Regions from separate parts of the Homo sapiens genome. Here region 2 is linked to region 1. Evidence: fine-mapped expression QTL. A gene starts in region 1. The other region holds a variant in brackets. All regions are shown on one strand. Distances are between the middles of the regions. Region 1 holds the start of ERC2 (ELKS/RAB6-interacting/CAST family member 2). Region 2 overlaps ERC2 (ELKS/RAB6-interacting/CAST family member 2).

Region 1 (5,385 bases):
CAAGACGGTCATGCTATTACAAAAGAATAATTTTAAATATCATTATACCTAATCACTAATGGAAAAGGGTCTCTGTAAATAACAAAGAAAATAAAACCCTAATCCCTTGGTGGGGAGACAACTGAAGGATGTTAAGAGCATTTATTCAACCAAGATCTATTTAAAACTCTAATTGGAAATTTAAGGTGTCAAGAAAAATGGAAGAGTGTGAATTTTGTTTTGTTTTACCTTCTTTTAAGTCATCATCATTAAGTTTGGAACCAAATTTTTATCGAGCCAAAATTTTTATTTTATTATGTGTTATATTTTTTATATTTTATTATGTTTCTACTGGAAATATATAATAAACAGAGTTACTAAATTTGCCTATTGGCCCATGCCACAGCCTTCAAATGCAAAGGCAAAACAGGCTGATAAAAGGACTGTCAGAATCACAGTGGACTCTTAAAATGGTTAGCTCTACGTATGCTGGGAGAACCCACACTTCAGACTGGACACATGCAGACTACACAACCAAAATTTGAAGTCAAGGCCACGGCCAAGGTCATGGGCTCTGGGTAAGACGAACCCGGGCTCAGGTTCTTGCTTTCATACTAAACTGTGGCAAGATACTGAATTCCTTCTAGTTACTCATCTATAATTTGGGCGTAAGAATAGTACCTACCTCACAGGGGCTCCACAAGGTTTAAAAAAGATAATGCATATAAAGTACTCAACAAAGTGCTTGCCTATGCAATAACAATGATGATGATAGTAATAGTAATAATACTGCTTTGACAAACCCGGCTTCTACATGAAAACCATTCTAATCAGTATATTCTGGCTCACAGTCTGTTTATGAAAGGCTTAATTCACAGAATTATGTTCACATCCAGGTACAACTTCTATAAAGTGACAGCTCTTTGGATCAATCAGTAATTTTTCTAATGAATTCAGGGAGAAGGGTGTTGAAAAATCAGGCTTTCACTAGTAGTGAGTTGAGATGGATCTGGTCCTTCACCCATGATTCATCCACCCGTGAAAGTCTTGCTGGTGAAAACCATGACACCATCACCTTCCACACCCCTCCCTGCCAAAACTGTAAAAGTATTTTATTAAAGCACAGAAGCAAACAGACAAGATGGCTTACATGAGAAAAAGGCAAACTCTACTACTCCCCGGAAAGAAAATGGCTTGACCCCACCACCACCGAACTGACATTCTGCAAAAGAGAACAAGGCAGCCCTCACTTCCAGAAGTTGAGTTAACTGTCAGAACTAAAAGAATCCCTTCTATTCATGTGACTCCCCATAAAGAACGTTTGCCGGCTCCAAAAATACCTTATAAATCCATCCAGTAGAGCCAAGCCCCAAGTACTGTATACTGAGAAACAATGTGACTTTACAAGGACAAGAGTGACCATAGGAGACAAAGTGCCACACCCTTTTCCCGGATAGCTCAACGGTACATGTTGTCTCTTATAAAGACTGCAATTCTGGAGAAATAGGTGGGCAATTCTAACACCCCCTCCCCCAATTCCTTCTTTACACAGATTCATTTTCATTTTTAAGCCAGTGGCCTCGGCATCCGCAACTACTACAACTAATAATCAGGGGGGTGGTGGGTAAGGGATGGGGAGGACAAGGAAACACAGGTCAAATATACTTGCTTCTAAAAGTCCATTTTCAAAGAGTTTTCTTCCCGCTTGTCTGCCTCTCACAGCTGTATCCCCATACCAGGTGGAAACCAATGGTTAAGTAAAATCACTGATTTAAAGAGCCAACCAGGAAACTAACCATGACAAGTGGGAGCTGCCCTCCTCTCCCGAGCATTGATTGGTTCTTTGGGTTCCACCGGTCCCCATTCTACCCACGTAAGTGGCAGGTGTGGCTGTCAATCACAGAGGGAACCGACAATTCACCGCTCGGGGAGTAAATTGCCTTTCATACAGCAAAGGCAGGTAGCCGCCTAAAATCGATCCACTCCTAAAAGAGCGGACCCTCCCTCTCTGGCAAGGAGAACAGAGACCCTTAAGTACAAAATAAATAAGGCAGGGCCGAACGGAGAGTTTACGAGCGCTATTTTATTACCCCGAACCAAAGCAGCTCTTAATCTTCACTGTCCTAAGACGATCTTTCAAAGGCTCGTACGGTATTTTTTTTAATTAGGTACACCTTCGTAAGTATCCCTTTTTTTGTATAATTAGGAGATGGGGAGGAGGAGAGAAGGGATGCCGTTCAGTTCAATTTCACATCGTATTCCTTTTCATACACCATCCCCTAGCCCTCCCCGATAAATCGGCTTCATTTTCCCTGACACGGGTTTTTTAAAAAAAAATATGCTCCCCTCTGAACCCACCCAGGCGGCCAGCCACCCCACCCCCGGGCGGGGGCTCCACCTTTCTCCACTTTGTTCTGCTTAGGATTGCTCAAGACCCCCGACCCCGCGAACACCCCACCCCTCGAGGCAAGAGGGGACGCCAGGCAGAAGAGGGGGATCTGAGAGAAGAAAGGCGATGGCAGTGAGGGTGGCTGCCGGAGAGGGACTGCGGGAGGTGGCCCGGGCAGCCGGGGCTAGCGAGCGGCGCCCGCGCGCTGGAGGAAACCGTGCACTTGTTCCAATCCGGGGGTTTATACATCAGGGCAAAGCCTCCCTTAGGCCGCCCCATCCCTCCCCCCGCCCAAGAAAGCCCCGTAGGAGGCGGATGGTTCACCCTTAGGCTCCCCACGATAACGCATTGCAGCTCCCCACGAGCGAGGGGGACCCGGCACGAGGAATGCCCGGGCACGGGCGCCCCGAGGGAGCCGGGCACCAGGCGGCCCCGGCCCCGGCGTCGGCGTCTCACCTTTCCGATGCTCGCCCCGGGGCCGTCCCACATGGATTTTTACAACCTCTCGTCGCCTTGGCCCCGGGCGGCCAGGAGGAGCAGGAGCCGGCGCCGGAGCCGGAGACCGAGCGAGCAGGAGCGGGAGGCGGAGGAAGAGGAGGAGAAGCGGGGCGGGGAACAGGGAGGGAGGAAAGAAGGGAAGGAGGAGGACACTGCTCGGAGGGCCAGGGCCAGGCGCGGGGCCGGGCGGGGCCGGCGGCCGAGGGGGCGGCACCCGCCGCAGTCCCGAGACGCGCGCTCGCGCGGCGCTGCCAGGCGCTGCGCTCGGCGGGGCCCCCACCCGGCCGGCCGGCACGCTCGCCCGCTCGCAGAGGCCCTGACTCACATTCCCAGCATTCCCGAGGAGCCGCTAGGGGGGACGGGGCTGGGGCCCGGGCGCCTCCGCTGGGGGCAGCAGAAAGCGCCCGGCATGGGCGGGGGTCTTCGCAGCGCCTCCTCCCGGCAGGCCGCGGCGCGAAGCACCTGTCCCCAATCTTCCATCCCCGACGCCCCTTCCCGGGTACCCCCCTCCAAAAGCTGCCAGGCACACTGGGAACTTGTCAGGTGGCTTTGGTGACAGGGGCAGGGATGGCACTTATCTTTTAAGTTAAGCATTGGAGTAAGGGGTCGTGGTTACCATACCCTGGCACCGTCCATCAGCTTTAATGTTCCTTAGGAGGTTGAAAGAATTTCATAAGATCTTCACTTTATTGTTCCCCCAAAGAAAGGACAGAATGAAAGATAAAGACAGGAACAAGAGAAAAGATCGCATCCGTCATATTCACTGGGTGCCTCTTCTGTGCCCTGAAATGTGCTTGCATTGTCCCAATTTAAGGTAGAAAGATGATGTCTGAGTTGATACGCGCGCACACAGGCAGATACACACACACACCTCAAGGTAATGAGCAAGAGGATTTGGACAAGTTTTTCATTGGAAAAAGCTTCCACTCAACAAGTCTGGAGCCCCAGCTGCTGCCATTTTATATTAGGGAGGGTACTGGGATAGCCATGGGCATCTTTAAACTTGGTCTCTTTCACTGAGTAGTCAATTTGCAGGGATAGAGCAGTCATTTCCTTCCTGTCCTGATGAGTCTGCTTCCAGCAATTTCAGTGGCCAGATCTAAATTTCTCCTGCTGGGAAGCTCAGACAAATAAAGCAAATCCAGCCATGGGATGTTTGGGTGCGCAGAGGCATAGAATTAGTACAGCGATTAGAGGATGGATCCTTCTTTCCTCCCCGATAGGAATTCAATTTTTTTTTTTTTTTTTTTGGAGACAGAGTCTTGCTCTTTCTCCCAGGCTGGAGTGCAGTGGTGCCATCTCAGCTCACTGCAACCTCTGCCTCCTGGGTTCAAGCAATTCCCTGCTTCAGCCACCTGAGCAGCTGGGATTACAGGAGTCCATCACCACGCCCAGCTAATTTTTGTATTTTTAGTACAGACGGGATTTCACCATCTTGGCCAGGCTGGTCTTGAACTCCTGACCTCAAATGATCCGCTGACCTCAAGCTTCTCAAAGTGCTGGCGTTACAGGCGTGAGCCACCGCGCCCCGCCGGAATTCAAATATTAAATGATTCCTGCTCAGGGAATCAGACTCTGAGAGACAAGGATGCCTTCCTGTTCCAGCCCAAATGCCTGTTCCTTAAGCCTGTACACCTCTGGTAGCTAAGGTTTTTCATAGACTCTCTTTGCCCTCATCCTCTTCTTTCTCTCTCTGAGAAATCAACACTCATTCTCCTGACCTAGATGCTCCAGGGGCAAAACCAAGCTCCACCTATTGTGTTTTGTTCCCCACATACATCCTTGACAGCCTCTGCTCAAAAGGCTTGTTGTATATGAGAGCCTTGTTGAGAGTCCTTTGAGAATTCCTAAAATCCCACATCTTTTGAAACGTGGCCAACATTTTTTAGTACCCCCCTCTGTGCAGGCACTTACATTTTCTCAACTATTCTCACAAATATTCTATAAGATGTTTACCAACTTTCAGAAAAGTTGGGTAACATACCAGGGTGATCCCATGAAGAATTTATTTAAATCAATGCCTGAGGTTCACTCTGGTTGGCCACCCATTCTCTTTTCCTTTGATCCGTGGGTTTTAAAAGGAACCCTTGACATTCAGGGGATCAATTTATTATGTACATGCTTATGTACATTTTTCCCACAGAGAGAAGATTCATGGTTCTCAACAGATTTCTTTCAAATTGGGTCCTTGACCCAGAAAAGTTAAGAATAATTACTTTAAATAGAAAGTGACTCTACATAGTAAAACGAAGAGTGGAAGTTATAGGAATCTTAAGCAAGTCATCTTTATCCTCTCTGGGACTTAGTTTTCTGAAAATAAAAAGCGGAACTAAAGAATCTTAAGATTGCTCTCAACTCTAACATTTTCTAACTTTAGGTTAAAATACACATATATGTGTGTATAGGTACACAAATACATACACAAACACACACACACACAAACAAACACACCCTCGCAATATGCTAACAAGTAGCCATTGTGAGATCTAACCCTTCAGGACAGAAAATTCTAAAACATA
Region 2 (5,385 bases), 300 kb before region 1:
ACAGTGATCCAAGAGTATGGTTACTATGATTTCAATTTTTCTGAATTTATTGAGACTCACCTTATGGCCGAGCATGTGGTTGATCTTGGAGTATGTTCCACGTGCAGGTGGGAAGAACATATATTCTGTGGTTGATGAGTGGAATATTCTGTAGATGTCTATTAGGTCCAATTGGTCAAGTGTTGTGTTTAAGTCCAGAATTTCTTTGTTAGTTTTCTGTCTCGATGATCTGTCTAATGCTCACAGTGGGGTTTTGAAGTCTCCCACTATTATTGTGTGTTGCTGTCGAAGTCTTTTCGTAAGTCTTACAAATTCATATTTTTGACTCTGAGTGCTCCAGTGTTGGGTACATACATTTTTAGGTTAGAAAAGTCTTTATCCTTTATCATTATGTAATGCCTTTCTTTGTCCTTTTTAACTGTTGTTGGTTTTAAAAGTCTGTTTTATCCAACATAAGAATAGTGACCCCTGCTCCTTTTTTGTTTGTTTGCTTTTTATTTGCACAGTGGATCTTTCTCCAACTCTACTTGGAGCCTATGTGTGTTGTTACATGTGATGTGGGTCTCTTGAAGACAGCAGACAGATAAATCTTGTCTTTTGATCCAACTTTTCACTCTGTGCCTTTTAAGTGGGGCATTTAGACTATTTACATTCAAGATTAATATTGATATTTGAGGTTTTGATCCTATAATGAAGTTGCTAGCTGGTTGCTTTGTAGTTTTGATTGTGTGGTTCCTTTATAGGGTCTATGGGCTAAGTACTAAGTGTGTTTTTGTGGCAGCAGGTATCATTCTTTTGTATCCATATTTAGAATGCCCTTAAGAATCTCTTGTAAGCCTTAAGTAAGCAAAGTTATTAATCATTTCCTTTATAATATTTTTCTTTATTTTTAATAACAGCTTTCATGAGCTATAATACACACACCATAAAATTCACCCTTTTAAAGAGTATAATTTAGAGGTTTCTGCAACCATCACTGCTATTTAATTCCAGAACATTTTCATCACCCAAAATCCAGTACACATTAGCAGTAACTCTTCTTTCCTCCTTCCCCCTAGCTCCTGGCAATCACTAATCTACTTTCTGTCCCTAATTTGCCTACACTGGACATTTAATTAATAGTATCATATAATATGTGGCCTTTTCTGACTGACTTCTTCCATTTAGCATAATGTTTTCAAGGTTCATCCATGTTGTAGCCTATATCAGTAATTTATTACTTTTTGTTGATGAATAATATTCTACTATGTGGATATGCCATATTTTGTTTCTTCATATATCAGATGATAGACATTTGGGTTGTTTTAGCTTTTGCTATTATAAATAATGGTAGCGTGAACACTTGTGGATAGTGTTTTGTGCGGACATATGTTTGCAATTCTGTTGGGTGTGTACCTACAAGTGAAATTTCTAGGTCATGTGGTAACTCTATGTTTAACATTTTGAGGAACTGCTAACAGTTTTCCAAAGAGGGCTGTACCATTTTATGTTCCCACCATCAACATATGAGAATTCTAATTATTCACATCCTCCCCAACGCTCATTATTGTCTGTCTTTCTTATTTTAGCCATCCTAGTGTGGGAGAAGTTGTATTTAATGCTGGTTTTGATTGGCATTTCCCTAATGACGAATGATGTTCAGTATTTTTTATGTCCTTATTGGCCATTTGTATGTCTTCTTTGGAGAAATGTCTAATTAAATCTTTTGCCCAGTTTTGTAATTCAGTTATCTTTTTATTGATGAATTATTTTTTCTTTATTTTTAAAGAAACGTTTTAATTAAAGTATTAATATAAGAAAGTACACAAATCATAGACTTTCAAAATGATGAATTGTGGTCAAGTGAACACACTTGGGCCAACCAGATCACAAAACAGAACATAATAGAAATAGAATATTACCTGTACTTCAGAAACCTCCTTCCTGGCCCTCCCAACCTTCACTTTTCCCTCCTCTTCTTCAAATTAACTACTATACAGATATCTAATACTATCAATTAGTTTAGCTTGTTTGGAGAACATATATTATATATGTTCTTTTGTGGCTGGCTTCTTCCAACATTATTTTGGGGATAGTATTCATTTACGCTATTGCATATGGCAATAGCTTTTTTTTTATTATTATACTTTAAGTTTTAGGGTACATGTGCACAGTGTACACGTTAGTTACATATGTATACATGTGCCATGCTGGTGTGCTGCACCTATTAACTCGTCATCTAGCATTAGGTATATCTCCTAATGCTATCCCTCCCCCCTCCCCCCTGCATATGGCAATAGCTTGGTCCTTCTCATTGCCATATAGCATTTCATTGTATGAATATTCCACTACTGTTTTATCCACCCTACTGCTGACAGCTGTTTCACTTGTTTAAAGTTTTTAGTTATTCTACATTTAGTTATGTGTTATACCTTTTTATTTAAATTAGGTCTTTTATAGCTATTGTTAGACTTGCTCTTATATATTTGGGGTTTTTTAATACCAGTGTAAGTGATATTGTTTTCTCAATTTCATATCTTAATTGTTTATAACTAGTATGTACAAATAAGATTCATTTTAAAATACTGGCCAGCCATTTGGCTAAATTTATTTACTAATCTAATATTGTATATATGGATTCACTGATATTTTCTACAGACTCGATTATGGTACTTGTGAACAAAAATGTTTTTTTTTTCTTTCTAATTTTTATACCTAGGATGTCCATAGCATTATCGAACAGAAGTGATGGTAACTGGCATTCTTGTCTTATTCCTTATATCATAGAGAAAGCTTTCAACATTTTACCATTGAACATGATATTAGCTATAGCTTTCTTGTAACTATTCTTATTAGATTAAGAAAATCCTCTACTTCTGAGTTTCTGAAAAACATTTTTGGGGGCCATGGATGGATGTTGCATTAATCAAATGCTTTTTCTGTACCTATGAATTATATTCATTTTCTCCTTTATCCTCTTAATATGGTGGATAACATGATTGATAGCCAAATATCAGTCCAACTTTGCATTCCTAAAATAAACACAACTTGGTCATGTCATTTATTTGTCATTGAGTTCAATTCACTAGGATATTTTCTACCATCAGTGTTTACTCAGGAGATTGCTTGTAATTTTCCTTTTTTGTAATATATTTGCTGGGTATGAATATCAAACATATGCTGGCCTCATAAAACAAGATGGGAAATGCTCCCTCTTTTTCTATTCTAGAAGAGTTTCTG[T/C]ATGATTGATTTCATTTCCTCTTCAAACATTTGGTACAATTCACTCAAAAAAGCCATCTGGGCCTCTAATTGTTTCTGTTTGGTTTGGGTTTTTAGGTTTTTGGTTTGGTGGTAAGATTTTAATTTATAGAATCATTTCCTTTAACATATAAGACTACTCAGATATTCTATTTCTTCTTAAGCAAGTTTTGACAAATTGTGTTTTTAAAAAGAATTTTTTCATTTATCTAAAATTTCAACTTTATTATCACAAAGTTGCTAATAAAATCCTCTCATATTTTAATGTTAATAAGGTTTATAGTGATGCCCCACTTTCATCCCTGATATTGGTTATTTTTGCTGTCTCTACTCTTCTTGCTGATTCTAACCAGGATTTGTCATTTTTGTGAATCTCTTCAAAAAAACAGCATTTAGTTTTGGTGCTCCACTCTAGTATATGTTTACCCTCTATTTATTTAATGTTAGCTTTTATGTTTATTATTTCTTTCTCTCCACCTTCTTTTTCTACTGGTTTAATGCGATCTACCACACCTTTTAAATTTACAATGTCTTCTCTCAATCAAACTGAATGATTTGCTCTGCCAAAGACACTCCTTATCCTTTCTAGACTCGTGGCTCTTATAGTTCCCACTGTTTATAAACCATATTCCCCTTTACCAAAATCATGCCAGTTTTCCAAGGCTTTCTCCAAATGCTACCTTCTCCAAAAAGCATTCTGTCTTCTTCTCTTATTTGATATCCTTTGACTCCTCATAGCTCATTTGCCCTTCTTAAGTCACTTTATAACCTGGTTTATGTACTTCATTCCATTAGCTCCTTAAAGACTTAGAACTCAGTTTTTCCTGAAAGCCTCATCATGGTGCTGTACACAAAATAGTTGCTCAGTAAACACTGGTGTTTATTATGCAACTTCAGGAGTTAGATTCACAAAAACTAACCTGGGTAATAGCAGGAATTATTGACTGGCAACATTTAGTCAAACATGTAGAGTCAAATATATCATAAGAAGAGTTTGGGGGGAAAGGGAAATAATTCTCATCTTCTAAAAAAAAATCTTACTTGCTTCTAAGTGACAACCATATATCATCTAGAACTAACATTTGACTTGACCATCACTTAAAAATCACATTTTGCCCATTATTTAAGGCAAATAGTTAAATGGGATAAAGGGGTTTGTTGTTGCTTTATATTGGGGGGTCCAGTTGGAAAATGAGAAGATAGAGAAATTTCCCAAGAAAAAAAAGTAAGCTAAAGGATAATTCTAATATTGTAAATGCACACTGCACATCAAAACACACAGTCCTTTACAAGTTTGAACAAGTTATCACACCAGGCTGTTAAAAAAAGACTTCAGAGCAAGACTTAAAATGCAGGGGGAGAAACAGGGCATATGTTGGCTGTAATGTACATATTTGGAGCCCTATTTGGAGCCATGATAACACATGCATGTAAAAAGGATGAGTTTTGCCTTTTAGCACAAAATACAGCTCTGCACCTTTCCAAAAATATCACATAAGCCACTCCATCTCTCATGAGCTGCCTCTACCCATTCTAGGATGCAAACCTCAATGCACAATTTCCAAAGTAAATGTTGAAAGAAAAAACGTTTGAACCTTTGGGCTATCTTTAGAAAAGGCAGAAAGAAGGAGTAAAGAGTGCAAGAGCTTTGAGGAGAAACTTATGTTCAAATCTCAGCTGCCAATCTGACTAGCTGCAGGACCATGGGCAGGTTGCTTATCCTCTCTAACCCGTAGCTTTCTCATCTGTGAATTGGGGATAACTCTGCCTATTCACAGGTTTATTGCACATCAAGTGCTGTAGCCCTTATGTGTGGTAGTGATGTTGCTGTCATTGGGTATTACTGGGGGTGCAGGTGACATCGTTGTTGTTAGTGCTGTTATTGTTTTTAATAGCCACAAAAGGAGCAGGGGCATATTCTTAAGGCCTAAAAGCCATCATCATAATTGCTTTACTAGAAAAACTGGGATTGGCACAAATTTCATATGAACACAGCATCCTTGGAGAAGATGAATGAAATAAACCTAGGTAGGCCCTACAGTCAAAGAAGTGGCAGCTACTTCATAGTGTCTCTGACCAGATTCCAGGACTCAGACAAGTTCATAATGGGTATTGGGTTGTGCTGAGTAGTCTAGGTTTGCCTTTGAA

The links.
Region 2: its variant is fine-mapped to the expression of ERC2 in cerebellum (GTEx, PIP 0.96).

What each region holds. Positions count from the first base shown.
Region 1 is chr3:56,465,424-56,470,808 of GRCh38, forward strand. It overlaps ERC2 (ELKS/RAB6-interacting/CAST family member 2), which reads right to left and starts at 3,044. Exons shown (of 18, transcript NM_015576.3): 1 at 2,825-3,044. RefSeq lists an enhancer at 1,698-1,992.
Region 2 is chr3:56,163,214-56,168,598 of GRCh38, forward strand. All of the region lies in intron 4 of ERC2 (ELKS/RAB6-interacting/CAST family member 2), which reads right to left. Among named protein-coding and RNA genes, the nearest start is that of ERC2, 300 kb to the right of the region's middle. The variant T/C (reference allele first, on the strand shown) is at 3,220.